Homo sapiens: one gene and its partners. The protein of the gene in region 1 interacts with the protein of each later gene in a pairwise test. Each region holds a gene or a part of one and is shown on either strand. Other genes may lie near its edges.

Region 1 (7,107 bases):
CCTTCCACCACCGCTATTTGGGCCACAGGGGAGCAGCGGTCTTGAGTTCCCACTCTGCCAGGCTCTCCTGCCTGATTTCTGTCCCCCTGACCCTCCTGGAAGCTGGGGGACTCTGCAGGGTCCCTCTCAACAAGCACTCTCCCGGCCCCTGCAGACAAATAAATGAGGCCAGCTACCTCTGCAATATATCTTCCCACCCACTCACCTGCCTACAGGTAGACAGCCTTCCCACTGCTGGGCTAGGTGTTCTCTGGTGTCCTATCACCTTCTACAAACTCATGGTGCCTGATGGACCTCGCATGTACAGCCCAGACAGTCGTAGGAGAATAGACTTGAAAGGGGCTTGAAGAGAGCCAAGGATAACCTGCTCATTGTATAAAATGAGGATTCTGAAATCCAGAGAAGTTAAGAGATGAGTCAAGGTCATATAGCTTGTTCTCAATTTCACATGCGTTTTGTTTGGTCTCCTCATCAAAAATATGTAGCTCCTAGAGGATGAGGCCACTGAGTGTTCCCCACAGCATGCTAATGGGCACTAATTAAATAGTGGGTTCAGGCCACACCTGTTGACAGGTGGATTCTTAGGGAGGAAATGAGAATGAGAACAAGCACCTGTCGCCCCTGGGCCCGGGGCATACACTTGACTCTCTGGGCGTCTGTCTCCCTGCCCTGGACCTGGAGATAGAACTGACAATCTCCACAGAGGAAGGTCTCCTGGGAGGAAGGCAGGACAGCTCCTCAGAAGGAGGGGTCACATCACATTTAGACCTAGCACAGGACTTGGTACAGAGGAGCATCCATTCCTTAACAATGCACTGTGGACTGAGGACCGTGAGGGGAAGCTCTGGGGTAGGGCTCACTTGCCACTACTCCAGCACAGACCCATTGTGCTACGCTGGAACCCAGAGAGCCTGTGCCCTCCCCTTACCTAATAGGAATTAGACAGATGCTACCACTAACGGGCTAAACTCCCCTTGGTGTTTGTCGGCTTGACATCTGTCTGGATTGTGAGCTGATGACCACGGGCACGAGCCCCCGAGGGAATTCTTTCCACCCAGGGGTCCAGCTTACACCTGGGCTGGCAGACCAAGGCCACACTGCAGCCTCGCTGCCCCCACTCATAGCCATGAGATATCCCCTGCTCCTAAATCTACCTCTGCCTCTTAGTGCGGGCCCTCCCAGCCCCACCTGAGACTGAAGACTTTGTGGAAGTAAAAAACAGATCTTCTAGACTTTGGTTTTCACAACAGTAGCTCTTCCCAGCATTTGCCAAAGATTCGAGTAATGGAGGAGATGAGTTTAGCTGGTTCTTTTATGAAAGATCTTGGGAGAGGACTAGGTAGAGCTCAGGAATGGCTTGTGTTGTCTCCAGAAGGCTAAAGGAAGAACCATCATCATAGAAGATAAGCCTGGGCTACCCTAAATAATGTGCTCCATTGCTACACACAGACACACCTGCACCCACTTCCTGGACCTGCCACTTTAGCCACTCTCTGAGCCCCAGTTTCTCTTACCTATAAAATGATACAATGCCCATTTTACCTGCTTCACAAGGCTAAGAGGATCACACAAGGGCATGTGAGAATGAGCTTTATTAGGACAGAAGACTAATATTTATTCAACATGAGCTTGCCATGTGCCAACCACTTACAGATGTTTTCTTCCAGAGTTTTCACAGCAGTCTTAAATATGCTTGGTAGTATTATTATCCTCACCTATAAAGCCAAGAAAACGGAGGCTCAGAGGGGTTAAGTGATGTGCACACTGCTTAGCTGTAGTAGAACCAGGGTCAGAACCCAGAATCTGACTCCAAAGCCTGTGTTCCTTCCCCTAGCCCCACGCTGTCTCAACAAGAAAAGTAAATGCTGCTTTTTATGAAGAAGCCAGTGAGTTTTCAGACTGAAATTGCTGCCTCATGGAGCCATCCCCTATCGCTAGGAACATCCATTTGTCCCAGGCAGGCCATCAGAAGGGTCAGAACCAACCCCTAGGCCCCCACTGTCCTTAAGACTCTATACCACAGGGGCCAAGCCCCTGCAGTCTGTTGAATGTCATCATGATTCTTTGCTCGGATTTGTGGCGGTGGCGGTGGTTTTAATGATTGCCTAGCCACAAAGCCACGAAGCAATCCAATTGGGAGGAAATATGGAATCATGGAACTTTGAGTAGAAGGGGACCTCTGAGAGCAAGTTCAAGCTCCTCATTGGATAAGTGAGGACACTGACATCCAGAGAAGGTAAGTCCCTTGTTGAAGGTCACACAGTCAGTCAGTGGCTGAGTCCACAGTGGAATCCACCATGCTCAGACTACCAGTCCCCCCTTTCTCTCCACCATCCCGATCACCCTGATATCAATCAGCTTCATGGTTCCTGAGATGGAAGAGGGCTGGATGTGGGCCTATAGTCTCTGCTCTCTCTGCTTAGGGAAAAAGGGGATCTTAGGTAAGAAAGCCATGTTGCAACCAGGAGTGAAGTGATTTGTTTGCCTCATGCACCAACTCATTGGTCTAAGTTCTACCCATTGAGAAGCCAACGTGGAAAGGTCTGCTCGGAAATCCCTCAGTGTGTAAGGGAAACTGGACCCAAACAACAAGGCCTTACCTGGTGCTCCTGGGGCAGGGACAGCCCACTTCTGGCCACCTGGGATAGGTAGAGGGGGCTAAGCTCCTCCTTCTAGTCCAGGCTGCTCCCTTGCAGTCCCCAGGACAGCGCAGAGCACCATGACCTAGGAGGCTCATGTTTCATGCCCCCACTGGCCAGCCGCTCAGCCAGTCCTCCTCTAACACTCTGCAGAGGCTCCCTTCCTCCCAGAAGTCTGCCCTGTGACTCCACTCTGTCCTGGTCACTCCACATCCTGCCCCACTGTTGTCTCCTGTGGTTAACACCTGGTTGGTGGCTTTTTCCACGTCACCTCTCTGTCCATCATCTCTCAGGTCTGTGTATTGTATGTGCCCTCTCTACTGTTAACCCCAGACACCCCTCATCCCCAAAGTGTCCTCAGGGTCTGTGTACCTGTTTTCTACTGCAGCCTCTGCCAGGGCTGTGCACAGCAGGCAGCACCAGGCCACAGCATTGACTGGCTATTTGTGCAACGCTGGTTGAAGACGCCAGTGACCTGGAAAAGGGCCCAAGCCAGGTTCTGGGGAAGCAAAAGGAAAGGGAAAGGGGTAATCCTCCAACTGGATCATCAGCTCCAACATAACATGACAGAGGAGAGTCAACCATGACTGAGCCTCTCCTCTGTGCCAGACACCGTGCTAGGGACTTAACAGATGCCCCTCAACAGTCCTGTGAGCTATGTGCTTTTACTTCCCAATTTACAAATGGGGTAACTGGATCGAAGATGTTAAGCAACTTGTCTAGATCCATATGACAGGTAAAGAGCAGGGCTAGGCTCTAAATGAAGTTTTGCCTGATGCTAAATAAAGCCCATACTCAACACCGCCCCCACCACAAGCAAGCTCCTTGAGGACAGGCTTCATGGCAATGTCTTGGCTTTGTTTTTGCTGCTGTCTCCTCAATGCCTAGGACTGTGCCGGGGACACAGAAGATGCTCTATAAATATTTGCTGAATGGAAGAACAAAGGGAATGGGTGAATGCCATGCTGCCCCTCCCCAGCAAGGCAGGACACCTGCCCATGATGCCCGATTACTGGGTTCTATTTCCAAGAATCCTCAACAACTATTTGTTCCCTCTCTACTAGATTTGGGATGGCGATGTGAGTAGAGATGTAAATTGAACACAAAAGACTACGTCCTAATGAGGTGGAGGATTTACAAGCCTCAGTGCCCTGTGACCTGCTGCTTCTGTGGCCGCTTTCTGGCCCATCTGGATCTGGCTCCTCCTCCACCCCAGCCTCCCCCCTCCCCCACTGGGCACCCCCACTGCCTTGACTGAGCCGTACTCAAATTGGCCACGTTCCTACTAAGCAGAAAACTAACAGTTACCCCACCCACCCCGGCCCTATCCGAACTCTCCAGAGTCTGCTCTGGGCCCCAGGGCCAGCTGCTTTTCTCCACATTCCAGCCAAAAATAATACAAGAACGAAGCTGTTTGGTGGAGACTTAATCTAATCTTCATTGCTTCAGTTTTAAAATATCCTGCCTGGTTTAGGGTTTCTTATTACACACAGGGATGTGTTTTTAGTGAGATAGGTCTTAGCAGAAACGTCCTTCTTGTAATTAGAAACCCAGGCAGGCCGGGCCTGCAGTGAGGCATCCAAGCCAAACAGCAGATCCCCTTGAAGACAACGCATTTGCAGCAAGCTCTTCTCAAGCTCTGCTTGACCGCGTGAGATGAACTGAGCTGTCCCGGGCTTGCTTCTCCCTCTCTCCTGGGGGTTCTGGACGGGAGGAAAACCTGGAGTTCAGGTAGAAAGACTGTGCCCTCCAACTGTTGCTCTCTCAACCCCCAGCCCTGTCTCCCACCCCCAATCAAAATGGAGACTAAGATGTTGCCTGTGATTGGCTGAGAAGGAAATGAGGAGGAAAAATTACCCCAAGGAATCCCCAAAGACTAGGGAGTATTAAAGACAAGCATTCCACCAGAGCCGCGTCTCCAGGATCAGAGCTAGCTTTTACAAATCAGACACCGGAACAGAAGGAGTCTACGAGCGCACACACAGTTTTGTGTAAGTGCCGGGTGTAACTTCTTGGGCTTTCTGGCCCAGAATCTGCTTTGATCTGCCAGCAGAGACTGCTAAGAGAGGTTCAGGCCGTGGCTAGCTGCAGACCAGCACCCAACCCCCTCAGCCGACCAGATGTCACACACACACCAGTCAGGGCTCAGGCCTTGCCTTCCCAGTGGAATAAAGAGAAGGGGCTGCATTTCTGATAAGTCAGATTCTGCATTCGTCTGATACAGGACAGCTATTCCAGGTAACACCATTTGGAAGAAGCGGGCTGGATCCCCCAACTCAGCCAAAATTGCCCCTCTTGGTAAAGTGTAGATGGTTTTTGGAGTCACAGCAGGCCTTTCAAATTCTAGGATGTAATGCAAGGCAGGAATTCAGCCCCTTTACTATAGCCTAAGAACTCCTGAGAGTTGTGGGGAAGGCCCTGGAGCCAGGCGAGGAAAGAAAACACACCGAAGAATGTGACTTTGCTGCTGAGAAGCCTCTATCTCCCATTTTTTTTACTCAGAGCGCAGCCTGTGCTTGATCCAAGCCCATCATCTCACCCTAGTGAGAACTGTGTGTGATACATTCCACTTTACAGATGAAGAAACCAAGGCCCAGAAGCTAGATGACCCACTGGAGTCATGCAGCCCTGGCAATAACAGAGTCAAAAGAGACCAGGCCACTAAATTTCAGCCTAAACACTAGCTCAGCATGCTGACCTGCCAACCTTGATTATCTGCCCACCACTTCCCTCCCTCCTTCCTCCCTTTCCCACCAGGTATTAGATTTAATTAAATTAGCAGATCCCCATCGCAACAATCCTGGCCATGCTGCCTGGATAGAACCCAGCCCGTGGAGCTCCTCCCTCTAAATTCTGCTTCTCAGTATAATTCAGTCTTCAATAAGTCACGGATCTCACGTGAAGTGTTTTATACAAAGCATGGTGTGTTGGCTAGACTCAGGCTAACGGTGGTTCATGATGATTTCATTTTCCATTAGAACTTCCTCAGTTTTTCCTCTGCAGCATCGTTTTCACCCTCTCCATGCTCGGATCTGCGTTTTGTTTGATCCAGACACTTGGCTTCACATGCCGTCACCTCCAGCAATTGCATCACACGTTTATATATATCTTACAGCATCGCAGTCCTTGTGCCACACAGCGTAGGAAAAAGGAAAACTCATAACAGCCTTTCTCACCCTCCTCGAACTAATTTAGAAAATGTGCTCCAGATTAAATAAATCGGGAACAAAAGCCTGAGATTAGAGATAGAATTTCAGAAAGTAGGGAGGGGGAAGCTAAATAAATAGCAAGGAAATCTTGCAACATGTTGGAAGCCTATAAATTTTATTGGTTGTTTCTTTAATAAAAACAAATTCAATTGCTAACAACGCAGTATTATTAAGCCTCTAACATTTAAACATCTAATTTTCCCCTGCTCTGCTGCTGTTTACGTTGCACGTTGGATTCACGGAAGGTAAAGAAGTCAGGTCAATTGGTTTGGTTTGATTCCTAAACCAAGCTAATAGAGACCCCTTTAAAATCCAGCCGTTTTGCTTTCTAGGCATGCCTTGGTCTCTAATGAGTTACAGCCCAGGTTGAAGATGGACATGGCAGAAAGAAATTTAACACACACTCTGGTGCACCCATAAACTTCAAGGCCAAGGGAGAGGAGGTATGTTTCCAGTTAAGCTAGAACTCCATGAATTCAGGATTCTCCACTCACAAGACAGTAATTCTACTTATTTCATCACTAACTTACTTCAAATGTGTTTATACAATTTATTGCTACTGAACTTCCAGGCAACTGGTGTAGAGTTAATGAAACCCAGCTTGGAGAAGCTTTGAGCTTTGAACAACTAACCACAGTTTAAATGGTTATGACATGCGGTCAAAGCCACAGCCTGAGCCCACTGCAGTTTCTGTGTTAGGACCTAGTCAAAAACCTTGTCATCTCACCTTTTGTGCCAAACAGATTGAAAAAGCAAAAAGCACTGAAAAACAGCCTGCCTTGTTCCTTCTCAAGGTTCCCAGGCATTTAAACACATTTATCTTACTAAACGCGAGGCAAAGCCCCTCCCCCAGTCCCAAGTAAATATTTTAGTTGCAGTTTGAATTGGCAGCTGGGCTGAAATCCTGAAATCCAGTTTGGGTTTAACTGAACAGGGGTCAGGCCTACCTAAAGCAATGCTGGGAGAGGCTGCTGGGGAGGCACCAAGCAACATTTAAAGGCAGACTCAGTGAAAGCCCAAAGGCAACACGAGAATGAACAGATGAAACCGGACTGGAAAAGAAGCAAACTCGTCTTTCAGAATCACTTGGACATTAACTTTTATTAATTCTCATTGTCACATGGCACCCTCCCCCAAGCTCTGCCATGTGGGATCCAGCAAGCTCCCTCTTTTTAAACAGGCCCATTTTGGAAGAGTAAAGGGGAGGTACTGGATTTGCCACTGCCACACAATAAAAGCCCCTTTTGAAAGCAGCACTT
Region 2 (7,107 bases), on another chromosome or scaffold:
GAGGCTGAGGCAGCAGAATTGCTTGAACCCAGGAGGCAGAGTTTGCAGTGAGCTGAGATTGCACCACTGCGCCCCGGCCTGGGAAACAAAGCGAGACTCTGTCTCAAAAAAAAAAAAAAAAAAAAAGAATAGTTTCTGAGTGTTTGGTTTTGACAAGTTATTGATCTACTTTGGGACTTTTAAAATGGATTTTTAGTTGATTTTGTGTTTTTAAAGTAACACTAAAAATAGGAACGGAGCACAGAACAGCCTTGGGTCCCTAAGTGTAATTATACAGGCTGATTATTGATTGTGGTGGGCATAATACAATCAGTCTTCTCTGGATTTGTATCTTGGCAGAATCACATTTGCAGTGCTACCAGTTGATTTGCAGCGTAGGATTTGAATTCTTGGTTTTTCTGAGTGGAGCAGAATGGTGTTTCTTGGGGGTTTCCATCTAACTGGTGTTTGACGTCATGAAGCAGGAAGCAGAGATATGCTTCTAGAGGAAATTTGTTCAGTCTATGCTGGTTGGCCCCAGGAGTGGCTTATTAGCATGTTTTCTAAAGGCCATTTTAAAATTTCTGAATATTTGGCCGAGCATGGTGGCTCACACCTGTAATCCCAGCACGTTGGGACATTGAGGCAGGCAGATCACCTGAGATCAGGAGTTTGAGACCAGCCTGGCCAACATGGTGAAACCCCTTCTCTACTAAAAATACAAAAACTAGCCAGGCATGGTGATGGTCACCTGTAATCCCAGCTACTCGGGAGCCTGAGGCAGGAGAATGGCTTAAACCCAGGAGGCGGAGGTTGCAGTGAGCCGAGATCACGCCATTGCACTCCAGCCTGGGCAAGAAGAGAGAAACTTCATCTCAAAAAATAAAAAATTAACAAAATTAAAGTTTCTGAATATTTGCTGCTAATAACTAAAATTTAAATCTTCCAAAGTTCAATTTAAAGCCTTTTAGTGAGAAAATGGCTTACTTATCATGAGCCTGGAGAATGTAATTATTTACAACACAGACTTTAAAGGCAAACCTAGGTTCAAATCCCAACTGTGCTACTGTTCACTGTGTGATCCAGGGCAAGAGAAAAATTTTCTGTCTTCACCGTAGCTCAGTCTGTTTCCTCAGCTGTGAGATAGAAATAACTTGGAGAGGTTTCTTTAAGGATTACACGAATAGGCCAGGTGCGGAGGCTCACACCTGTAATCACAGCACTTTTGGAGGCCGAAGCGGGTGGATCGCTTGAGGCCAGGAGCTCGAGACCAGCCTGGCCAACATGGCAAAACTCTGTCTCTACTAAAAATACAAAAATTGCCAGGTGCAGTGGCTCACCTGTAATCCCAGCACTTTGGGAGGCCAAGGCAGGCGGATCACCTAAGGTCAGGAGTTTGAGACCAGCCTGACCAACATGGAGAAACCCCATCTCTACTAAAAATACAAAATTAACAGGGTGTGGTGGCACATGCCTGTAATCCCAGCTACTCCGGAGGCTGAGGCAGGAGAATGGCTTTAACCCGGGAGACGGAGGTTGCAGTGAGCCAAGATCGTGCCATTGCACTCCAGCCTGGGCAACAAGAGCGAAACTCTGTCTCAAAGAAAAAAAAAAATACAAAAATTAACCAGGCATGGTGGCACGTGCCTGTAGTCCCAGCTACTCAGGAAGCTGAGGCATGAGAATTTGCTTGAACCCAGGAGGTGGAGGTTGTAGTGAGCTAAGATTGTGTCACTGCACTCCAGCCTGGGTGACACAGCAAGACTCTGTCACCAAAAAAAAAAAAAAAAAAAAAAAAGGATTACATGAATATACACACATACACGTGCACATATCACAAAGCAAGGTACCCAGGATATAAGAAGCACTTAGTAATTGACAGGTATTATTATTAGCACTTGGCATGTGAGTTAAAGAATTTAATATTCAACATTATTTTACCCCTTCAGCATTTTAGCAAAGGTGAAGACTTAGTGTTGGATTTTAGTTATTGATTGGTTTTGTTTTAAATTTTTCAACATATGACTAAGTCCTGAATAGAGGGAAACAAAGCTTGTTTGCATATGTCATGATCTCAAGCATCTGAGCCAAAGATTTTTAGGAGAGTGTGTATCTGTCTTGGAGTGTGTGTATTTAATAATTTTGTCATGCAGATTATCTTTCTTGAGTTTTTTGGTCCAAGGAAAAAAGAAAGGCAAGGGATTCAGCTAGCCGATGTCTTCTTTCTGAATTGTCAGTTGCTCCACTCTAAGCTCTACTATCTTTAAGTAGCATCATCCTGAATGTCATATAAATGGTTTTGTAGATACTGTGATTACCGTGCAGAGTTATACCTTCTGTGAAATTTAAGGGACTTTTAATGGTAATTTTGATTAAAAGTGGTTTTTACCTTACTTTTGAAGACAGCCTCCCCCACTGTCCTCAAAGTAAGGAGCGATGATAGGAACAACCAAAACTGGAGTGAGAAGAAAACATGGATAGGGGAGTTGAGTAGAGGTGGGGGAACATGAAAGGCGGGAGTTTGTGGGTTGAAGAAAACAAGACTACAAAGAGGCATTGAACTAGATAATGCAATGCGCTGTAATATGGCTCATCTTTGCCAGTTATTTCCAAACTCTGCATTTCAGGTACAGAGCCAGAACTTCCAATCTAAATGTGTCATTTGCTGTTTAATGAATCCTTTCTGACTTCTGGAGCCACAAAGAATATAGTTCTCAATTGTTACTGAATTTAAAGAATGCAACCCTTAATTGTTACTGAGTTTAATAGAAACAAGAAAGGAAAATAGGAAAGCACAGGATGATGGGGTGGGTCTACAGACAAAGACTCCTGACCGTGAGCTTCGGGAGCATCTGCGTAGATTCTTTGTGCAAAACTGCTGGGAAAGGCTAGGCTGAAGCTGAAGTGTGCTCTGGGTCTACTCACCATAGAAAGGTGAGAGCCAGGCCAGGCATGGTGACTCACGCCTGTAATCCCAGCACTTTGGGAGGCTGAGGCAGGTGGATCACCTGAGGCTGGGAGTTCAAGACCAGCCTGACCAACATGGAGAAACCCCGTCTCTACTAAAAATACAAAATTAGCCAGGCATGTTAGCACATGCCTGTAATCCCAGCTACTCGGGAGGCCAAGACAGGAGAATCGTTTGAACCCAGAAGGCGGAGATTGTGGTGAGCCAAGATCGCGCCATTGCACTCCAGGCTGGGCAACAACAGTGAAACTCCATCTCAAAAAAAAGAAAAGTGAGAGCCAGGGAAGGAGAACAGAAAGTAGAAGCAGGGATAAATTGTTTTAACACGAGATAAGAATTGTAAGTTATAATGGAGAGAAGGATGAAAGATAACTGACAGGTAAGTTATAGGAAAAAGAAAGAAGCACAAACTGGGTTTTTTGTTGGAGAATGGGGGCTCCAGGGAGGCCCTCATTACTTGGTTTCTGCTAAATAGTCCTTTCTGTTACAGCAGGTGCTACAGAAGTAACAACAGAACCAATCTAGTTCTTAACTGACTTAATGTTTGAGGGTATAACAATGATCTGGTCTAGCCCTATATATCAGTTTCATCTTGTTGCCTCTTGTCCTTAAATTGAGGGCACAGAATAAATTTCCTTAAAAGGCTCTATCCCCAAAGACTTCTTCACTTCTAAACCCTTAGCCATCACCACACTAACAGACTCTTAACACGTTCCTCTTGGGGGTCAAATAACTTCTCATTCAGCCTGTCTCGTATCACAGTCATCATTTCCCCAGTAAACCCAGTTCCATTTCTAACATCCCTGTTTTTGCTAATGGTATCATCATTCTAGTCACCCAGTCTCAAAACCTCAGCTGATCTGGGATTATTTCCCCTCTTACCTCCCTAAATGAAAATCCGTCATTTACTGTAAGTAAATTCTTAAATAACTAAGTAAATTCTTTTTAATGTCTCTTTTGTCAGTCTCTTCCATTCTTATTGCTACCATCCTAGTTCATACATTTTTGCCTCATACCTATGCTGTTAAATTTTTTTCCCGACTACTCTTTCTGTTTCCATTTTCTCTTCAGTCAAGTCAGCCCTGTACTGTAAGCATTAACTTTCCTAAAACTATGCTTTTGTTATGATTTTCACCAGGTTAAAAATGTTGAGTGGCTTCCCATTTTCTAAAAGGTAAAGTCCAGTTGTGTTGGCTGAGATTGAAAGTGCTGTACATTTCTTTCCAACCAGCATTTTTTCAGTATCTGAACCAGACACTGCTAGTGCTAAGTGTGATCAAGTTGAATAGACAGAGTAGTTGTTCAGATGAGTTCAGAGTCTTGTGAGACAGAAGACAGATATGTAAACAGATGAATTGATGTAATAGAATGTGATAACTGCTCTTGAATTACGAATGTAGATACATATCCATTATGCATTTAATTTAATGTAAAAAAATAGCTGTGATATTTTCAGGAAACCCATTTCTCAGTCATCACAAGTTAAAGTTGTGACTTGATTAAAACCTGTTAAAATTCAGTGGAAGCAAAGGTATGCGTTTACCTGTATGCTAAAGGCACAAAAAACTAATCTAAGCAGAAGGCTGGCCTTTTCTTTTCCCAAGTATTGTGCAGATACAATTGGCTTGAACATGTCTCTAAACTGACTTTCCCAGGAACTGGCCAGGCCATCTCTTTCTTTTTGGTGCAGATCAACCTGCCAGAAGTCAGAAGTAAACTTGTTTTGGTTTGTAAATTAGACACGTGAATGATAGACAATGATGACCCATTGGAAAAGGAAAACTTCATTATCCTTGCAGATGAAACCAAAAAGTATGCTCTTTAAGGATGAGAAATGAGAAGCTGACCAGTCACTAACTCATTTAAACCATGCAGCCTCCTGTTACAGTATGTATTGTTATGTCCATTTTATAGCTAAAAAACTGAAGTTCAAAGGTTAAATGGATGAAAGAGCAAGTGGCAGAGCCAGGATGCAAACTCAGCTCTGTCAGATTCCAAAATCCATGTGCTTTCCACTATAACATACTGTCTCCCAGCAGAATTACTGTCCCTGAAGAACCATAGAACAACAATTGCCAGGCTTGTTGTTGGAAATATTCAACTGATACTCAATTGTTAAATTTTTTTTAAGTCAGTTATCTGTCTTAGAAGACAAAACAACATCACGAGTTTTATTTCTGCTAGAGGATTATTTGAAGTTTTTTTTGCAGTTCAGATAAAGTCAGGTTATGGGCATCGCTAAAACACAGATTCCTTAACTGTTTGATGGTTAATCCTTCATACCATACTCTGGAGTTTCTCCCCAGTGTGGAATCTTAGTGGAATCAATGACGTCATCATCCTACATTAGCATTTGAAGGGTTTGCATTCCAGGCTGCCTCTAGAATTGTGGCCCATGAATCATCTTACTGAAAATAATCAATCTACATGTTATTGTTCCCTTGTGGTATTTTACAAGTTATGGTGGCATTATTTCAGAAAAGCAAAAATTTAGGGGACTGATGGACAGATAGACAATAGAGACGGTCAGATACATATTTGATTGAAATCATGTTACAATTTCATTTAAATGAAATAAAGCCATCTAACAAATTATATAGAAATGATTCAGCCGGGTGCAGTGGCTCACGCCTGTAATTCCAGCACTTTGGGAGGCCGAGGTGGGCGGGTCACTTGAGGTCAGGAGTGCCAGACCAGCTTGACCAAAATGGAGGAACCCCGTCTCTACTAAAAATACAAAATTAGCCAGGCATGGTGGCACAAGCCTGTAATCCCAGCTACTTGGGAGTCTGAGGCAGGGGAATCTCTTGAACCAGGAGGCGGAGGTTGCGGTGAGGCCGAGGTTGCGGTGAGCCGAGGTTGCGCCATTGCACTCCAGGCTGGGCAACAAGAGCAAAACTCCATCTCAAAAAAAACAAACAAAAAAAATGTAATGTTTCAGTTTCCTGGTAATAATATTCTGATGTTAAAAGACATATCTTTTTTAAAATGTTCAATGATAAAAAATTTATTAATATAAAAGTTGTTATTCATTTTCATTAACATCCATTCCAGTAGCTTAACTAATGTAGTTCTAGTTTGGCCTTGTCTCAGATGAGAATACCTGAGATGGTGTAAACAGATATCCAGGTAGACAGACCTTTTGTTCTTGTTTTGAGATAGAGTCTTGCTCTGTCTCCCAGGCTGTAGTGCAGTGGTGCAATCTCAGCTCACTGCAACCTCCACCTCCTGGGTTCAAGCGATTCTCTTTCCTCAGCCACCTGAGAAGCTGGGATCACAGGTGTGCGCCACCATGCCCGGCTAATTTTTGTATTTTTAGTAGAGATGGGGTTTCACCATGTTGGCCAGGCTGGTCTTGAACTCTTTATCTCAGGTGATCTGCCTGCCTCGGCATTCCAAAGTGCTGGGATTACATGCGTGAGCCGCTGCACCCAGCCCAGACCTGTTTTTAATAGCTTTGCACTAATGTTCTCATTTGAGGGAAGAGATATCTGAATGTTTGTTTATGGGCATAAGGCTACTTCCTTCTTTTCTTCAATATACATATAAATCTTGCTGACATCATATATGAGAGACAGAGAAAGAGATGTGTACACACACACACTTACACATTCACACATTCACACTCACAGAGAGATATAGCAGAGTTGCATGAGTCTTAGAACTAAACAAAACAAAAACCTGATACCTATTATGTTGTCCCAGAAAGCGAATTAAACTGGATCTTAAAAAGACATGTATGCGGCCGGGCGCAGTGGCTCACGCCTGTAATCCCAGCACTTTGGGAGGCCGAGGCAGGTGGATCACGAGGTCAGGGGTTCGAGACCAGCCTGACCAACATGGTGAAACCCTGTCTCTACTAAAAATAGAAAAATTAGCTGGGCGTGGTGGTGGGCACCTGTAATCCCAGCTACTTAGGAGGCTGAGGCAGGAGAATTGCTTGAACCTGGGAGGCGGAGGTTGCAGTGAGCCGAGATCGCGCCATTGCACTCCAGCCTGGGTGACAAAGTGAGACTCCGTCTCAAAAAAAAAAAAACGTGTGCTAGACCTAGTTCTATTTAACTGTATTCACATTAACAACTCTGGCCTCAGTACTCATCTGTAGAATGAGAGTGCTGAATTAGATTATTGCTGAGGCTCCTTCCAGCTTTGTGAATCGT
Region 3 (8,008 bases), on another chromosome or scaffold:
AAACCAATAGGGAGAGGAAATGGACAGACAGAAGTAGGCTAAAGGCAGAGCGTTAGCAAACACCATACTTTGGCCAATGGCAAGTAGGTACTCTGCAGAAGCAAAGACTAAAGGTGAGAACTGAGATGACACAGGAAGAAGAGAAGCACAGCTCCCCAGCATGGCATTCCGGTGCCTTGCAGGTGGTCTCCTGACCCTGCATGCCTCACAGAGGCACTCAGTTCAGTACAACCTGCTGATTAAGGCTGGCACAGAAACATATTACCCGTTTTAGAAAGAATTTCATCAAAACAGTTAACATAAAAGGGTTGGGGTAATTTACTTGGAAAACTCACTCATGAAGAACACTGCCTTAATTGATGATGATACTGATAAATCTGAGCAGCATCCGAGTCATCGAATAGAACTTTCTGCAATGATGGAAGCATTTATCTGCGCAGTCCAACAGGGCAGCCATCAGCTGCCTGTGGCTACAGAGCACTTGAAAAGTAGCCAGTGTAGCTGAGAAACTTGCAATTTATTCTCATTTACAAAATAAAGTTTTTAATTCAATGAATTTAAACTAAATGTCATGAGGCTGGATGTGGTGGCTCACTCCTGCAATCCCAGCAGTTTGGGAGGCCAAGGCAGGTGGATCGCCTAGTTCGAGACCAGCCTGGCCAACATGGTGAAACCTCGTCTCTACTAAAAGTAAAAAAAAACTTTGCCAGGCGTGGTGACACGTGCCTGTAATCCCAGCTACTTGGGAAGGTGAGGCAGGAGAATCTCTTGAACCCTGAAGTCTGAGGTTGCAGTGAGCTGAGATCATTGCACTCCAGCCTGGGCGACAGGAGCGAAACTCCCTCTCAAAAAAAAAAAAAAAAAAAGGAATTAATTAATTAATTAACTTAATGTAATGAATGTAAATTCCACAAAATTTTAATTCATTTAAATTTCAATAGCCTCATGTGACTACTGCTCTCTTATTGTATAGGTAATATGTGAGATTCATTGGCAAGCTTGGCTTATAGTAAAGATATGTAGGCTTTGGGATCACATGGGCCAGGCTTTAAGTCCTCTAATCACTAACTCTGTGATCTTGGATTTGTCTCTTTCCTGGGCATGAACTTCTTGTTCATAAAATGGTAATCAATATTATGTACATTTAGGGCCGTTGTGACCACTGAAAATGAAAATGAAACATATAAACTGCTAGCACAAAGTTTCAATAAATGGTAGTTATTAGTATTAAATGATGGAGGTCAGCATTCAAGAACATAATTCGATCGTTTTGATCTTCTGGTCGCCAGCCTGAACATGCACTACGCTGAGAAACAAGCAACATGAGGGAACCCCCAGGGGCTGTTGCCCAGGATGGAGTGGAGTGGCCTCTTAGTCCAGCAACTGACAATGCTTTTCTATTTAGTGACTCTCTTATCTCAGCCTTGCTGTGAGCTGCCTTTTTTCAGTGTGATTGCTTCTAGCAAATCCTCCAGCTCCTCCTAAGGTGCATTCCTCGCTGCTTTTTTCTATTTCCTCAGAAGAACTATGGTTGTTAAGGGGAAAAGACAAATTGAGCTTGTTCAATCAATAACTTTAATTTTACATACAATTCTAAGACAATGGAGTCTGATCTGAGGGCTGAGGGGTTCTCAAGTCTTTTTCTGTGGAATTAAGAGCACAGATTCACAGACTTTGTTTACCTTAGCCCTGCCAGATCGCTACAATCTCTTGGGCAGATCTTTTAAAAAAAAAACAACACAGGCCTATCCGTTCTCCCTCAACCTAGAGACCTGGCATTAGTTGGGAGTACTGCAGGTGATTGTGTTTCGTGGTCTGAAAACCGCTGATGTATGCCAGGATTTCAGGGGGAGCTCTGGACAGACAGGGTGGTCTGACTGACCCTGGGTTAATTGAGGGACTGCTGTACCACTCTTAGGCAAGAAAATGGGTACAAGCATCCCACTGATCCAATACAGGCATGCTGGGGGTACTCTGGATATTTGACTGACATTTTCCCTGGCATAGCCAATCATTAGAACAAGTGCCACTTGGAGCGGGGACTGGATTCCAGAACTCTTTATTTTTTTACTTTTCCTCTGAAGCTGCTTTGGTTGTTTTGTTTTCAGAGATGCTCTCCTTTTGTGAGGCTTGCATCTGTTTATAATATGTTATTATTCAGCTTACGGGCTTTTATACATTTAAAGTTTCCCTAGTTGTTGACACAACTTAGGTACGTACCCATCTGGAGAAAGACTAGTGAAAACTCTGAGCTCATGTCTTTTCAAGCTCACATTTTCCCGTAAGAAACCATTTTGGCAGTCAGAGGATTAGAGCTAATAACTGCATGTCCCTAGGCTCCCTGCTTGCTAGGAATAGTCCCACTGTCCAGAGTCACCTGTGAATAATGGTTAAATTACATTCTGATTCGTGTATGGATGCTTGTTTGGGTACTAGTCAAATATTGTTACATACTTTTAGAGACAGAAACCTCTGTGAAACAAAAGAATTCCAAGCCTAGGATAATGGCCCACTTCTGAAGAATAAACAACACAATAAAATTCTAGTACAAACAACTAATTTCAACATTCTCTGAAAATCTGTAGCAGTCCTTAACATTTTCAGTCCCCAAAACAAGAAAACTATGTCCTAAATCAGCAAACATTAGGGATTATGAGAGCAGTTTTATTGGCATAATTGATAAGACAATATTTACTGAAATATTCCAGCATAGATGTTTTACTGTGTTCTCTCTGTCTCTTTAACCACATCTTTTATTGGTTTTTGGTTTTGGTGATGACAATTTGGGGCTATTAAATCTACACTGGGCAATAGTAAAACCCTAAATGAGAACCTTAATAATAAGAGTTAGGGGTCCTACTAAGTGAACTCCTTGGCATATACTTTATTATCAAGAAGTAGTTTAGGCAATAGAAAAGCTAAAACTTGGTCGGCGCAGTGGCTCACGTCTGTAATCCCAGAACTTTGGGCGCCTGAGGCAGGTGGATCACCTGAGGTCACGAGTTCCAGGCTAGCCTGGCCAACATGGCAAAATCCCGTCTCTACTAAAAATACAAAAATTAGCTGGGCGTGGTGGCCCGTGCCTATAATCTTAGCTACTCGGGAGGCTGAGGCAGGAGAATTGCTGAACCCAGGAGGTGGAGGTTGCAGTGAGTGGAGATCATGCCACTGCACTCCAGCCTGGGTGACAGAGTGAGACTCTGTCATCAAAAAAAAAAAAAAAAAAAAAAAGAAAGAAAGCTAAAACTCATTGGTTACATTCCTGATTTTCAAAGCATCGATCATAGGGGAATCTTTTATGATTTTATAAGTGAGTCTTCTGGAAAGAAACTTAACTCAAAATGGCATAAGCAAGAAAGACAATTTATTGGTGCATTACTTCAGAAGTTCAGGATTTGACTGGTTTTAGAGGTGACTGTCTTCGGATGGCCATTGATGTCATCAGGGCACTTTTCTGTCTCCATTGCTCAGTTTGGCTTTTTTTCTGGTTTTGTTTTATTCTCCAGTAAGTTGACTCCAGCTGCTGCACGCATATATGATATGGTCCCAGGAGCTGCCCTGTCAGTCAGGGAAAGGACCCTCCTCCTTTGTTCTCAGACGATATTCTAATTGGCTGGCCTGGGTCATATCCCTCACAATGTCAGGAAGCTCTGTGGGCTAGTCACACCCAATGGGAGGGGGAAATTCCTAAAAGGAAGGGATTGGGGCAAAGAAGTGGGGAAAAAAAGTATACTTGAGAGGGAGAGAAGTTGGTTCCATTTGCTATGGGAATGATGAAAAATAGTTTATTTCTATTGTTATATGACTTTTGGAGTTAATGGAGACCACAACGTAATCTGTGATAACAAGGAATGTATTAGTATGCCAAAGGAAAGTTCCATTTAAATCCCAGTATCATGTCACTTTCTTAAAATGGTAATCTTTAAATAGAAAAAAAATATATTATTATAAAGTCTGAGTTTTATTTAGTTGGCAACTTCTTAACTATTATGAAACAATAGATTCATTGAATTGAAGCACAATTCAAATATAAACGATCTTTCTGAGAAAATGAGATGAGTGAAATCGTATTGTTAATGTACCAGAGATTAAAAAGAAATCCTTGCTCAATATTTTCTAGAAGAAACAATTATTTTGTGAGTCCATATCCCATTCAAATTCATTTTGATAAAGATGGATTTTATCTTTTAGACTTCCCAATAGCAAAATTAAATTACAATGTGTTTAGTCTTCCTAAAACAAATCCTCTCCTGAAACAACCAAGTTATTAAGCAAATCTAAGCAGAAAGTATTCTCAAATACTATATTAGGCGATTAATAATGACGCACCCCAAAGCATTTCATTTTAAAACATCAGCTGGCCCACATTTCAGAGGTAGTACATCATGCTTGATATTTTTCGTTATTTACTATTTTCTCCAAACATTTTTTTGAAGTCTTAAAAATGCCTTCAGAAATTAAGCTAGGACGCTCCATCTGAGTATATGAAAGTTAGTAAACAGAAAATGTCAAGCACCAAGACGTTTGGATGGCTGGACTACCAGGTGGGGTTATCTCATTCAGGGCACAGGCTCTACGTCTCCAGTGCTGAGCGATCTGCACTGGGGTGGCAGTCCGAGATCCAGCGGTATCACCGGGTGGGAGCAGGGTGGGGGTGCTTGCGTGCGGACATAGGTGGGAGTGGGGGATAGGGAGGAAATGGAGGCGCCGACCGAGTGGAATGGGGGGTGGGTCAGGGATGGGGTGGGATGGGCATCAGTAGCGGGGTGGAGATGTTGAGAGAGAGGCAGGGCTTGGAGTGGAGGTGCGAGAAGGGTGGGGACCCGGAAGGTGGGGTGGGGGCGGGATGGAGGCGGGGCGGGGTGTACGAGGGGCGTGTACACTGGCTCAGGGACACGCGCTCTCGGCCACAGCAACTGGCTCCAAGTTCCCTCCCTCACTCTCCGGCGAAGCCTGCCTGAGCCCTCCCACTCGGTGCAGACCGAACCATCGCGGCCGCCGCCAGCCGGGCCCTTCGCGGCCGCGCGTCCTGGGCCCGTTCCGCCAGCCCCGTCTGCTCTCTACCCGCGGCCCCGCGGCGGCGACCGTGAACACTCGGCGGCCCCTACAGCCCGCTCTCGGCCCTTCGTCCCTCGCGGGCCCCGACTCTCCCTCCTTGCAGTCCCCCGGAGCCTGGCTCCCGGCTCGGGCCGCACCGCCAGGGACTGGGGTGAGCGGCCCAGGTAAGACTGGGCCGTGGGGGCCGGGAGAGAGACTGCTGGGCGGGGGTTGGGATTCGGGTTCAGTGGTCGCGCCGCGCCCCGACTGCGGACAATGCGGGAGCTGCGCGCGGCCAGGCGGCGCGGAGCTAAGCCGGCTCTGCGCCTGCAGCTTCCCCGCCCGGCCCGGGTCTCCGTTGAGCCCGGCCTCACTGGCCCAGGCGGACCCCGTCCGGCTTTCTGGGCTGCCGGGGGAGGCGCAGCGCCGCTGCCTGCCCCGCGCCCCCTCTGCGCTCGGCTTGGCTGCACGTCCCGGGCTCGGCTAGGAGGCTGGGCACGGGGCCGGGGCTGGAGCCGGGGTTGGAGCCAGGGCGGGGGGAAGCTGGCCGCGCTGCGGAGCGGAGGTGGGCTCCGAAAGCGCGCCGCCGGTTGCTGCTGGAGGAGTGGGACTACGAAGGATGGGGACTCCGCTCGGCCACCGCTCCTGAATGGTCTCTAATCTCGGTGTTAAATACTTTATGAGAGTATCAATACCACCTAATCCTTTGCTGAGAATTACTGCTAGAAATGTAGATTCTGAGGTTCCGAAAGTTTGTTTTTGGTTACCCCCTCCAGCTCCTCCCGTGGCCTCAATTGTCTCTATTTTCTTTGAAAGCATACAGATTTGAAATAGAATTAAATTCTCCTTGGCTCACTCGTGTCTCCATCACCCAGCGGAGCTCATAACTTGGCAACAAAGCCCATACAGGCTGTGGGAAGCCGCGATGCCTGCTGCCCAGCCTGGTGCCCTCCTATTGTTTAGAGCTGGAGCTGTACAGTGTAAATGGCAGTGACAGGTCTCCCTTAAGCTGGCTCGTGGGGAAGGAAGGGAGATAACTTTGCAGTGTGCTTAAATTACTCTGGAAAGTGGAAAGAAAACACCTGGTGCTCAGCTTTTTAACCCTTTCAAGTTGTTATTCAGATTTATTGACACACACACACAGAAAAGTGCAGGCTTTCTTTCCTGCCTAAAAAATAGGCAACCTCTGTGTTCTTCCTCACAGCCAACTTATGTCCTCTGCAAAATCTGGCACACATCTGTGACAACATTGCACTTCTGGCGTAACTGGTCTATTTCTCAAAAGGGAATATGATAGTAGAATAAGCATTTTTGCAGTATGGATAGTAGGACTTCCATTTTCTTCGTTTCCTTTGTTGGTGAAGAAGGTATTTATTATTTTCCCCCCAGTTTACACGTAGTGATTTCTGGGAAGATACTTGTATTAATTTCTTGTACTCATTTTTGTGACATCACAACCCCTGGTCATTCAGGTAAGCTATTTATTAAGCATAGTTATTCTAGAATAAAGGTGAGTTAATGGTAAACTAGAATCCTTCACTGATAACATCCCATTGGTTTACCCTACGGTATTTAATCTGTAGTATTACTATAGATTGTACATGTAAAGTCACTAATTGAACAGAGAGGTGGTTGGTGCCTTGTTAGCCTGACATAAAGTGCTTAGAACAGTGCCTTGCATATAGTTCTAGGTGTCAGCTAATATTACTTTTAATTTTTCTTATCAAGCTATGTGTTATTTTCTGTTTGGAAAATGGTCGTTTTGATTTTTAAAATTCTGATCTGTTAGGTCATGATCTATTTTAAGTCTGTGGTTTTAATTTTAGATCAGGGCTGAGGTTGGGTTGTTATTATGCCTATGACTGACAGGCTTCTCTGCGTATCCTTATGCATGGTGAGGGTTGATTTAATTCATCTTATATATTGGATCTCTAAGGGCAAGACATCAGTCTTGAACCCAGTCATGCCCTGGTGCCTTTCATAAGGAGACCTGGTTGTCTTTAAGAGCCTAATTGTTTAAAGAGAGGCCTCCACATTAGGGAAGACCTGGGCTCTGAACCCCATTCCTTACCTCCCCTGCACTCCCTTGTTCTCTAGGTTTAGAATCCCACTTCCAATTCCCAATGGAAAGAACCGTTGGTACAGCAGAGTTAAGTAACTCTCACAGTGTTAAAAGATGATAAAAGATAAATATGTCTACTGTATATACAACAACCAGAGCATTTAATTCTTTTTCATGCTTTAAAATATTTTAGAGCAGGATTTATAGCCTAACTAGCTAAGATAAGAAAACTCACTTATTTAAAACTACTTATTTGCCATGTGTTAGTAACCAAAGATTGTGTTTCCTATTTAGATATTTTAAATGATTGTCAGGAGTTTACTCTTATTTCATGTTCTCCTTTCCCCTTTAACTTTGAAGTGACTTTTTAAAAAATCGTGATTCCTAAATAACTTAGCTAAGCGAAGGCATGGTATTAACTCTTAGGGCCCTGCAGAAGCAAAACTGCTGTAGGCACAGTGGCTTGGCAGTAGATGGTGCTGTGGACAAGGCTGGTGGAGGAGGCATATGTATGGTCTAGTAGAATCCCAGGGATTAATTTAGCAATCCCATTGTTTGCTGCCCCCCAAAACATACTCTTACCAACCAGACACTGTCCAACAATCTTTTTGGGAATACAGTTTGTTTTTAAATTTGTACTTTATATGTTCAACATTTGTAGACTATTGGCCATTTTTCTGTCTGAAAGCCATCGCATTTTAGGTGCTAGACAAACATTGCTTGTAAAAATATTATTATGAAACTGTTCACTTTATTTTATTTTCCCATTGTAGAGTCAGATTGATCAGCTGAGCCTAGAGATCTCCAACTAATCTGAACTTTTTTTCATACTTAACTTTTTAGGAGAGAGAAACAAATGATCAGAAACCTACTTGCATCTTGAATTTATTTAAGAAAACAACTTCCTAG

Evidence for each region.
Region 2: the proteins of PKNOX2 (region 1) and CTTNBP2NL interact in binary tests that used the Homo sapiens proteins (3 or more experiments, as listed by UniProt).
Region 3: the proteins of PKNOX2 (region 1) and FAM110B interact in binary tests that used the Homo sapiens proteins (3 or more experiments, as listed by UniProt).

Annotation. Positions count from the first base shown.
Region 1 is NC_000011.10:125,167,726-125,174,832, reverse strand, and holds part of PKNOX2 (homeobox protein PKNOX2), read right to left. Parts: intron 1-7,107.
Region 2 is NC_000001.11:112,399,214-112,406,320, forward strand, and holds part of CTTNBP2NL (CTTNBP2 N-terminal-like protein), read left to right. Parts: intron 1-7,107. UniProt on the Homo sapiens protein: Regulates lamellipodial actin dynamics in a CTTN-dependent manner. Associates with core striatin-interacting phosphatase and kinase (STRIPAK) complex to form CTTNBP2NL-STRIPAK complexes.
Region 3 is NC_000008.11:57,989,585-57,997,592, forward strand, and holds the start of FAM110B (protein FAM110B), read left to right. Parts: upstream 1-4,938; 5' UTR 4,939-5,222; intron 5,223-8,008. UniProt on the Homo sapiens protein: May be involved in tumor progression.